Linked DNA regions of Homo sapiens: regions 2, 3 and 4 are each linked to region 1. The links come from fine-mapping of genetic effects on gene expression. A gene starts in region 1. Each other region holds a variant in brackets. All regions are shown on one strand. Distances are between the middles of the regions.

Region 1 (2,681 bases):
TATTTTAAATCAGTAAATTTGTGGTAATTTGTTACGGCAGCACACACACAAAAAAAACTAATGCAAGGGGTATTGGTTATGTTTTGTGCAGGTATATGATGGGCCTCCCCATGTGGATCCTTAGTGCTGTGGCAGAGCCCTTGTTATTGTGCTGGGATTTTCCCTCCAGCTCCCGGCCGGAAGCTGGGCTCACGTGGGAGCTCAGTGCCCTCCTGCTACAGATCTGTCTCTTCCTTACAATGGTATGATCCCGAGGGTCAGGGTGAGGGGTTTGGGAGGATAAGGCTTGTGCTGATAAAAGGAAAGGTGAGGTCCGTTGCAGTGGCTCAAGCCTGTAATTCCAGCGCTTTGGGAGGCCGAGGTGGGAAGACAGCTTGAGGCCAGGAGTTGGGGACCAGCCTGGGCAATATAGCGAGACCCTATCTCTACAAAAAATAAATAACAAAAAATACTAGCCAGGCGTGGTGGCACACACCTGTAGTCCTGGCTGCTTGGAAGGCTGAGGTGAGAGCATTGCTTGAATCCAGGTGTTGGAGGATGCGGAGCTATGATGGCGCCACTGTACTCCTGCCCGGGCAACAGAGTGAGACTCTGTTTAAAAAAAAAAAAGTAGGGATTTGTGGGGAGCTGTGCGTGAGGATAGAATGTATAGAATGTTTGCAGTCAGAAGGTGATGGTCGCAGGGGTTCCCAGACTTTAGTGTGTGGAGAAATCCTCTGCGATATGGTGGGAGGGAACCTGGTTGATAGAAGGACGGGCGGAAGGAATTCTATTCACAGCGTACTCTAATATTTCTTAAGTTTTACCTATTAATTTTTAACAAGAAATTTTAATTTTAATTTTAAACGAAAATACGCATCGTACTCAGAGGTAAAGATTTTTAATCCTCGCGGTTCGCTCGTATAAAGGCATATTTCCGGTCCCTTCCAAGGTCCAACAATCCGGACACGGCGGGTCTGGGGATGGGCCCAGGAATCCGCCTTTTTAGCAGCATTCCCCCAAACGACACGGCAGCTTCGCAAAGCGGCGGTGGCGTCTGCGGTTCCGGGCGCGGGCGGCCTCCGGCCGGGGAGGGCGCTGTGCGGGCGGCGCTGGGGGCGGGCCGGGGGCGGAGCGCGGGGCGCCGGCTGCTCTGGCGGCTCCCGCGGCTCCGGCTGGCGGCTTCGGGCCCTGCACCTGTGACTCTCGGCCGCGCTCGCCCTCGGCCCGCCCGGCGCCGCAGCCCCATGGCCCCGTCCAGGCTGCAGCTCGGCCTCCGCGCCGCCTACTCCGGCATCAGCTCCGTGGCCGGCTTCTCCATCTTCCTCGTCTGGACGGTGGTCTACCGACAGCCGGGGACCGCGGCCATGGGAGGGCTCGCAGGTACCCCGGGACGCTGGGCGGCGCGGGGCGGGTGCGCGGCTGCGGGGCGGGCGCCGTCAGCTGCTCCAGGACGCTCCCCGCGAGCGGCGCTTCCCCGCGGAGCGGGTGGAGTGTTTACTCGAAAACAGCGGTTGGCGGCGGCAGGCCCCACGCGGGCCCGGGCTCCTGGGCATTCCTGGGTGCCTCTGAGACCCGATGCCCGCCCGGGCGCCACCTGGGGGTGCCGACGGCCCGCCACTGCCGGCTGCACAGACCTGCCGCGCCGCCCGGGTTATCTGTCACGGCACACTGCCTGTCGCCCTCCGCCCAGTTGCCCCACGACAGTGTCCCCTCCGCGCGCCCGCGGCGCTGGTCGCCTCCTATCCCCAAACACACACACACACACACACGCACACACACACGGTTGTTCTGAGGGATCCCCTGCCCCCCAGGCGCCCCTTCCCTGGGTGCTGGGTGAGGGCAGAGAGGGAAGAAGTGGGAAAGGAAGAGGGCTAGGGGTGGCTGGGGAAGCCCATCTCCCTCCTTCCAGAGGGCTCCCCCGCAGAGCCCTCTGCTGAGACCCACAGGGAGGACGGCGTTAGGGATCTCATAGAAACTGGACATTCTCTTTCCACCCATGTTGGTGCCTTTTTGCTACCCGTCTGCTGTGGCTCCTCAGCCAAGCTCTGCCAAATCCTGCAGGCCAGCCGCCCTTTCTGTGCTTCTGGGAGGGAAGGGGAAGCATCGGTGCGCTGATGGGGGCTCTGGGCTGACCAGTGCTCCTTGTTGTGCACATTTGGGCTCGCAGTTTAACCTCTCTGCGCCATAGAATTGGTATGAAGATGAAAAATATTATCTCTACTTTCTAACATTTTAAAAAATGCTTTCTATGTGTCAGGCACTATGTTAAGCAACCTGCTTCCCTTATTTCATTTAATCCTTACATTAGTCTCATGAAGTAGGCCTTACGATTATGTCCATTTTACAGATAAGGAAACTGAGGCCTGAAGTTAAATAAATTGCTTACCCGGGATTACACAGCTACATGAAATAATATGTGTGGGAAAGGACTTTGGGAAGAAAATACGTATAATACTTTTACATATGATGATTATATTCCATTACTAAAATCCTCGGCCAAAAGAACCCTAAATGGAATAACTAAAAATAACTAATTTACTCACTGCCACAGGGAGTGCTGAGTGCCATCCCTGGGTAGAGTCGCAGCATGAGGTGGGGTTAATGCCTTAGAAGAGGGGCATACAGGGCCCCACCCTACACAATGCCAACAAAGCACTGGGTCACCAAGAAGGGGGGATGGGCACCCTGGCTAGGGTGTT
Region 2 (2,686 bases), 28 kb after region 1:
GCTTATCCTGGAGAAGGGGAAGTGGGTGGGGTAGGAGCAGGCCGGCCCCATGGGAGGGCACACAAGTGGAGAAGCCTTCCTGGAGAGGCCTCCTTCAGCAATTCCAACGCTGGGCATCTCCCAGTGGGGCAGCCACAGACTGTCCTCAGGGATTGGGGCTGAGGAGGGCTGGAAAGGCCTGTGGCAAAGTACCAGTCCAGGAGTCAGAAATCATAGCCTCCAGGCCCAAGCTGGCCACTCCTAACCACAATCTTTACATCTACAGCACTTGTGCATGAGCAGCTACATCAAGCCACTGGCCCCGGGGGGTAGTCATTACTATCTTGTTATCCTAAATAAGGAAACCGAGGCTCGGAGGTGAAGGGCCCTGTCCAAAGTCACCCTGCTAGGGGCAGAGCTAGCATGGGTTCTGGTCCTACCAAGGCAGGTACTCCAGTTTCCCACCAACTTTCAGGAATTCACCTCCCCTCAAGGGGCTTTCTCACTAAGCAAAGAGGGGTTTGCAGTAGGCTGTCATTAAAGGGCATTCACTCTAACATTCCCTGACTGTGACATGGACACAAGACAGGAGCCCAGCAAGGAGGTGCCCGCCATGTCCCCCGAATATCAAGAGGCCTGGAGGGACAGTGATGGCTGTGCACCCAGATGCCGCCCGCAGTAGAAAATGTATGGCTTTGATGCCCCACCCCTTGTTCACATTGCCTCCCAAGAAATCCGGATTCTCATTCGGGTTGAGTCTGGGTTTCGAATACCAAAACACTCCTGCCCCAGGAAAGGTTTCAGTCCTTCCATGTTCTGTGTCCTGGCTTCCCGGGGTGACTCCCCTGATTATGCAAGAGGGGCTTGGGGGAACCAAGGCCAGCGACCTGGACCCAAGACCAGTGGCTTCAGCCACATACGGACTGTGAGCAGACCCCCAGCAGGGGCCCTTCCCCTCACACTCTGCATGGCCACTGCCTCCACAGCAGAAGGGAATACAGGATGGGCTCTGCCTGGAGCCCTGGAAATACTTTTCGAGGTGCTTTAGCATTTGTGAGGCTCCACAATCTGGTCCTAACTTGGCTTCTCTCAACTTGGTCTGCATTTGAACATGAACCCTCCACCTTGGCCATCAGCTTCCACCTGTCACAAATCCACATCTCTTCTGTTCTCTGACCTTTTGCTCACAATGTCCCCCTGCCTGTGCTGTCCTCATCCCTACATTCTACTTTTCCAAATCCTACTCTTTGCTCAAAGCTCAGCTGGAGTCCTCCCTCATCCCTGGACCCAGCCAGCGCCTAGCATCCCTCCCTCTTTTGGACTCCAATCACATGGCTGTTCCACACCAGGATTAGTGCTCTGTGGGCAGGTACCATGTCTGAGTTAAGCTCCATAGGGCAGGGAGTTGGTTTCATGCTTTGTT[T/C]ATTATTCCTAGCACCTGGAATAGTACCTAGCACATGACAGGCACTCCACAAACATAGAATCAATGAATAAATCAGTGTCTCTCCTAAAATGTCCAGGAAAGTACCCTGGCACAGAGACAGAACTCATTAATGATTCTTGAACAAATGGATAAACTCATGAATCAGTGTCCTCTCATTGGGCACTGGTCACATTATTGCATTCTATTTTTTTTCGCTTTGTATTTGTGTGTGCTTCCTCCCTAACCTGCCTGTTAGCTTTTCAACAGCCAGGACTGAAGCAAGGAGGATACCTGGGTTCCATTTCTCCCTGCTATATGGAATTATTAGGCATCAGGCTGTATATCTTGCACTCAGTAGGCCCTTGGTTGATACTGGCTACACTAAAGGAAGGGCAGACCGCGTCTAGTCCAGACCTGGCCCCATGGGCATGTCCTAAACCAAAGCAGCAGCAGGAAGTCCAGTCCTTCCCCAGGGCAGCCTAGCAGCAGAGGAGGCTCGGGCCAGCAGAGGGAGGAGGCGCAGACAGTGAGAGAACACTTCCCCTCCAGCAGAGCAGTCCTGCAAGGGCTGCCATGCCCACCTTGCAGAGCCGGTGTGAGGACCGAGTCCACACACAAGAACACACCTTGCCTGGTGCCTGACATGGGGTAGGGGTCTCAGTATAAATATTAGCTTCTTACTTTCCTTCCTGTTTCACTGCTCCCAGCAAGGACAAGACGGGCATCCTGTGTTTCCTTTTCCTGTTGTGTTTCCTAGCACTGTGCCCAGCCAGCATCCAGAGCTGCCTCTCTTACCCCGGCTCCTCGCCCCTCCCTGGAGCCGCCACCTCCTGGCTCTCTGGCAGATCAGCCAGCGACCCTGCTTCTCTAACCCCTCAGCTTCTCGCGTTCTTACAGCCTTTCCACCCCTCATCTTCCACTCCCTACCATGGACTCCCCCGGGTTTGACTCTTACCTGCGCCAGTGGGGCTGCAGTAGTGGGCACCCGGGCTCACCTGGGTCCCATCTGTAGAGAGAGAGACGGAGTGAAAGAGCTGCAGGGAGGGGTGAGGAGAGGGAGCAGGAAGGAAAGAAGGTCAAGCCAGGCCTGCTCCCTGCCACTCCAAGCTTGAGCACGCCAAAGCCTGGGACCTCCACCAGAAGCTAATCAAAACGAGAAGACCCCACCCCATTCGACTCCTCCAGTCCCCCTGCTGGTGAAAAGGGCTCCCAGCTCCCTCTTCCTCAAGTCACTCATTCTAAATGACTTGAACTCAGACTACAGCAAGAACCTAAGGAGGCCTC
Region 3 (2,686 bases), 160 kb before region 1:
AGTTCCAGTGAGGGTCCTCTCACAGTTGCAGATTGCTGACTTCTGTCAGCAGAAAGCAGAAAGGGGAAGCAAACTCTCCTGTTACTTCTTCTTTTTTTTTTTTTTTTTTTTTTTTGAGACAGAGTTTCACTCTTGTCACCCAGGCTGAAGTGCAATGGTGCAATCTTGGCTCACTGCAACCTCGGCCTCCCAGGTTCAAGCGATTCTCCTGCCTTAGCCTCCAGAGTAGCTGGGATTACAGGTGCCCACCACCACGCCCAGCTAATTTTTTGTTTTTTTTAGTAGAGACGGGGTTTCTCCATGTTGGGCAGGCTGGTCTCGAACTCCTGACCTCAGGTGATCCACCCGCCTCGGCCTCCCAAAGTGATAGGATTACAGGCATGAGCCACAGTGCCTGGCCTCTCCTGTTACTTCTTATAAGGGCACTAACTCCATTTATGAAGGCTCCCTGACTCATGAGCTCATCTAATCCTAATTACCTCCCAAAGGCCCCACCTACTAATACCATCATAACTGAGTATAGGGTTTCAACATATAAATTTGGGGGGACACAAACATTCAGTCCATAACCTATATATTCAAATGAGTTTTTCTCCCAACTTGTCATGTTGGGCAGACATTCTTCATCCAATGATGCTGTTTGGTGGGTGCCCACCCCAACAGGCTCTATGGATGCCCCACTCACAGTGATGCTATTCATAAGAGGTGCTATCTGGAACAGCAAATGGAAACAAGCCAAATAACCAAAATGCATAAACCACATATTACATTAAAATAACATAATTTATTCCCACTGCTTTCTAGTAAGACAGAGTAAAATTTTAGTTTATTAGCCTTTTTGTGACATCTTGTAAACAATACTTATTTTAATGTAAAAGTGTACACAAATCAGAATGGCTGCACTGAACTCAAGGAAACACATGCTGCTTATTTTCTGCCTGAAACCTGGAAGGAGGAAGGAGGGGTCATCCTCAGAGCCTTCCCTTACCTTCATTCCTGTGATACAACTCCCTAGTCCTGCGCACAGCATCTCCTTTGTAACTCTCATTTCCACCCTCTCCTCACTAAGACCTCATCATTGCATATCTAAATTATTCCAATTGTCTAATAATTGGCCTCCCTGCAGCCACTCCACAAGTCTCTCTGCAGTCATAAGCCAGTGACCTTTCTGTAATGCAAATCTAGGTCCATATCCTCTTCCTGATGCCGCTTAATGCATGAAAGGCCTTCTCATGGCTGGCCTTTTCTACGTTCTCCAGTCTCATCATTTTTCACTTGTTCCACCCCCACCTCCAACATGCAACCTTTGCCCCAGCCCTACTTAAAGACATGCAGTTCCCCAACACATAATATGCAATTTGATTTTTTAAGTTGTGTATTTATTTGCTGATTCCTTATGGTCTGTCTCCCATTGTTAGAATATTGGGTAATGAGAGTGGGAGACTTGTCTGGTTTATGTATAGTGGTATTGCCAACATCTGGAATGACTCCTGATACCTGAAAGGCACATCTGTAACGATTTTTTAAATGGATGAATGAATTAATGAATACCTCAGTGCCTATGCACACACTGTTCCTTCCATTTAAAATGTCCTTTCCCACTGCCTTTTATGATTTAAACCCCATTTTTCTTCCAAAACTCAGTTTCAGTATCAATTCTTCTGGAAAGCTTTTGCTATACTTTCCCTTCCCTACCCA[C/CCACACACA]CACACACACACACACACACACACACACACACATGCCAATGGGTTTACCTCTCTTCTGAGCTCCCATTACACCCCTACCCCATGCATAAGTCTCAGAAACAGTTGGCTCTTGATCAAAGACTGATGCTCCCCTTCCACAGTGCAAAGCTGTTGCCAGAAAGTGGCTACCTAGCCATGGCATTACATGAGGCCAAGAGGACTAAGCTCTAATGAATGGCTTATGGCCACCTCTTCCAAACCTATCCCCCAAAATCTTCCTGTGCCACACTCCAGTTTCCTCTTTCTTTCATTTGCTGACTGGTTGCAGAGGATCCAGAAGAGAACTCTGAGACTATGGAGATTGTTGGAGCTATGTGAGGACTGTCTGCCAAGCACCTGCTCTACTCTGTAATAGAGGACGGAAACAAACATCTACTATGCTAAATCATGGGGCTTTAGGAGCTGTTTGTTACAGAAGTTAGCCTACCCTACATTATACAGCATATCATTACCACAGTGCAAAGTACTGTCATAGTCCATGTGTCAGTCTCCTTTTCTGTACTCAGTGCTCTTGAGGCAGGGACTGTGAGTCACTTCTCTATATTACCAGGGCCTAATGCAGGGTCTGGCACATAACTATGTGCACTTAGTATGTCTGGCAATTGGCATGACTCCAGGAATAAAAAAAGAAAAAAACAGACAAAGCCAAACCTTGGTTTTCTCCCTAACAAGCTTTCTCCCACAAAATCCCTTTGCCATTTTCACAATAGGGAATTTCTGAGATGATGTTTTACCACGAGCAGCATTTGGACCCCTTCTTCTCTACTAAAACACTTTGGGTGAAGAGGTCCTCCTGAGAACCTCTGCCCTGTACATCTTATTACCAGACTGTTCAGCTGTCAACCACTACACAAAGAGCTCACTGATGAGAATTACTTTTGAAGGAGCAATCTATGCCTGTGATTAATTCCATCCTTCCCTGGAATGTTTGTTTCGTTTTTGTTTTAAT
Region 4 (2,686 bases), 820 kb before region 1:
ATAGCCTAAGTTCTCTAAAGTTCTCTTCAAAATAGATGTTTTCATAGATTAACTTGTTTTAAAATAAATACAAAGGAGCAGGCATAAGATGATGTTGCATTTTCCTTAGTAGCTGATCTCTGAAAGACATTGCTTAGATTTCTATTTTGAAATTAAAACAAACAAACAAATAGCATACATTGCAATATGAAAATACTCAATGATGCTATATATATACTTTAAGTTCTGTGATACATGTGCAGAATGTGCAGGTTTGTTACACAGGTATTCATATGCCATGGTGGTTTGCTGCGCCCATCAACCCGTCATCTATATTAGGCATTTCTCCTAATGCTATCCCTTCCCTAGCCCCCCACCCCCTGACAGGTCCCGGTGTGTGATGTTGCCCTCCCTGTGTCCATGTGTTCTCATTGTCCAACTCCTACTTATGAGTGAGAACATGTGGTGTCTGGTTTTCTGTTCCTGTATTAGTTTGCTGAGAGTGATGGTTTCCAGCTGCATCCAAGTCCCTGCAAAGGATATGAACTTATCCTTTGTTATGGCTGCATAGTATTCCATGGTGTATATGTGCCACATTTGCTTTATTCTTATGAGACAGAACTTCCTAGGGTATGACTATTTAGTTTGATTGATCTGAAATTATGGATTTCAATAATTTGGAGATGAGACCTTAGTATTTCCAAATGTATGCAAATATTGCTTTCATAATGCACTTGATGGGTCTGAAATAGGAATAGCACTGGGCAGGCACAGGAGGATAGAAAACCCCCAACCACAGCTAAAACAATAACTAGGCAAATAAACCATGGGCTGATGGAAAACCCAAAAGAAGGGACAACAAATGGCCAAAATCCTGGTCAGGTTGACATATCTATGACTCTTTCTGGCAAACCCGAAAAAGAGAAAAAGGGGATGGTAACAAGGGTCCCCGAAATCCTCTCCTTTTCCAGAATGATTATTCCACCCCCTAATTAAAGAAACACCCATAAAATTAAAAACCTAAACTTAATTGTGTGTGATTTGTTCTCGTCAGCAC[G/A]CCTGCACTTCTCTCTCAACTGTGTACTTTCATTTTTGGAATCAAAGCTTCTTGCCTTTCGCATCATTCGGACTCATCCCCGAATTCTTTTGAACCAGGACACCAGCTGAGGCTGGGGTCTCACTGGCATCTGAAGGCCCTCCGAGCCCTCTAGCAACAGGCAGCAGGCCTTCTTAGTTACGTTTGCTGGCTTGATTAGAATCATATTGCCTTGCACAGTGATAAGCACCTAAACTGATATTAGCTTCAAGAAAACATGAAAGTGTTGATTAACAAAAAAAAAAAAATTAGGTGTTAAGGGTCCCCAAAATACTCTGCTTTGGTTTAATGTATATCGACTACAAAACATCTTTTGAGGCAAGTTTTACCTGTGTAATCAACAGTATTACTGTTTGGTGTGATGTGAAAAGACAAGGATTTTAGAAGATTTTGTGTATGTGTCTTCATGAAACTGCATTGGAAACAGCACATGGGAAGTGAAAAAGAGAAATTTCATAGATACCGTTTGCAATTCTTAGTTAAGCTAGAAACAAAGAGGATCCTGATAATTTAAACATTTGTTTAAATTGTTTCTAATTCCTGTGGTCTGGGAACAAATCCCCAACCTAGCTTCAGTTACCCTCCTCCACACCACTCCATTGACGAAAAGGGGGAAGAAGGAAACTGGGTGGGGGGAAGAATGCGGAAGGAGAAGGAGGTGCAGAAAATTTTGTTTAATTGGGGTTGTAAAAAACAGCAGATGATTCAATATCTCCCTGAGGTTTTTACTGTAGATCACAGAAAGGAATGTGGAAAAACTCTTTTCATGACTTCCACCTCCTAGTAGGATTTGCCTCAGTGGTAGGCCTGCCAACAGTGGCCATGGGTCCTGGACAGAGGATACATGTGCTGTCTGGCCCACTGGTCTGTGGTCATTTCCTATCTTTTTTTAGGGTCTGATGCTATTTTAAGTGTGCCTCTTGACTGTGTGGGTATCACAGACACATTTCTCTGCTGTCCGGTTGCAGAACGGGTCTACTTTTTGACCATGCATATTGTAGACAGTCCATGGAGGTGAGACAGGGATGGTCCTTAAAACCTAGAAATAAGGAAAGTGAGAATGCTCTTTGAGAGTTAAGCTATGACGTAAGTCCAGCATAATTTGGAGTAAAGAGAGATATTTAAAGTCACATTAAGATTGCAAGCAAACTTGAATTGTGTGTGTCCAAGTCATGCAACAAGAAGTGGATTTACCCAGGCTCCCTGGCCAGCATATTCTTATTATAGTGATGGATACATCACACTGCCAGAGTTGATGTTTGTTGCACATTCTTTTCACATAACCAACTCTCCTGATTCCCCAAAGTAAATGTCTCAGGTACTTTGCACTGATCAGACTGACCTAAATGTGAGATCTCCTTGACAGTCACATTTCCCTTTAAAATCTAATACACTGGAATTCTGTGTTTCTACCTCATGGTAAGTTTTGTTAGCTAAAGGTCTCATCTTTAAGTCCAAAGAATGTTGGGTTACGATGAGTTTCAGAGCTGCTATCATCCACATCATGCTGGTGTCTCCCAAAATTTATATGTTGGAACCAAACCTCCAATGGGATAGTATTGAGAGATGGGGCTTTGGGGAGGTGATTAGATTATGAGGACAGATCCCTCA

The links. PIP is the estimated chance that this variant, and not a neighbour inherited with it, causes the effect.
Region 2: its variant is the best candidate, but not a certain one, in a credible set for the expression of SLC48A1 in whole blood (INTERVAL, PIP 0.77).
Region 3: its variant is the best candidate, but not a certain one, in a credible set for the expression of SLC48A1 in whole blood (INTERVAL, PIP 0.64).
Region 4: its variant is the best candidate, but not a certain one, in a credible set for the expression of SLC48A1 in visceral fat (GTEx, PIP 0.59).

Annotation. Positions count from the first base shown.
Region 1 is chr12:47,772,079-47,774,759 of GRCh38, forward strand. It overlaps SLC48A1 (solute carrier family 48 member 1), which reads left to right and starts at 1,160. Exons shown (of 3, transcript NM_017842.3): 1 at 1,160-1,362. The coding sequence starts at 1,227. RefSeq lists a silencer at 1,026-1,635 and enhancers at 1,381-1,887, 1,888-2,392.
Region 2 is chr12:47,799,867-47,802,552 of GRCh38, forward strand. It overlaps HDAC7 (histone deacetylase 7), which reads right to left. Exons shown (of 26, transcript NM_015401.5): 2 at 2,358-2,408. LOC124902926 (a long non-coding RNA gene) reads left to right here and starts at 1,214. Exons shown (of 2, transcript XR_007063290.1): 1 at 1,214-2,686. The variant T/C (reference allele first, on the strand shown) is at 1,403.
Region 3 is chr12:47,608,809-47,611,494 of GRCh38, forward strand. No RefSeq gene overlaps it. Among named protein-coding and RNA genes, the nearest start is that of RPAP3, 96 kb to the right of the region's middle. The variant C/CCACACACA (reference allele first, on the strand shown) is at 1,699.
Region 4 is chr12:46,954,929-46,957,614 of GRCh38, forward strand. LOC124902925 (a long non-coding RNA gene) reads right to left here. Exons shown (of 2, transcript XR_007063287.1): 2 at 1,735-2,114. Among named protein-coding and RNA genes, the nearest start is that of PCED1B, 120 kb to the right of the region's middle. The variant G/A (reference allele first, on the strand shown) is at 1,037.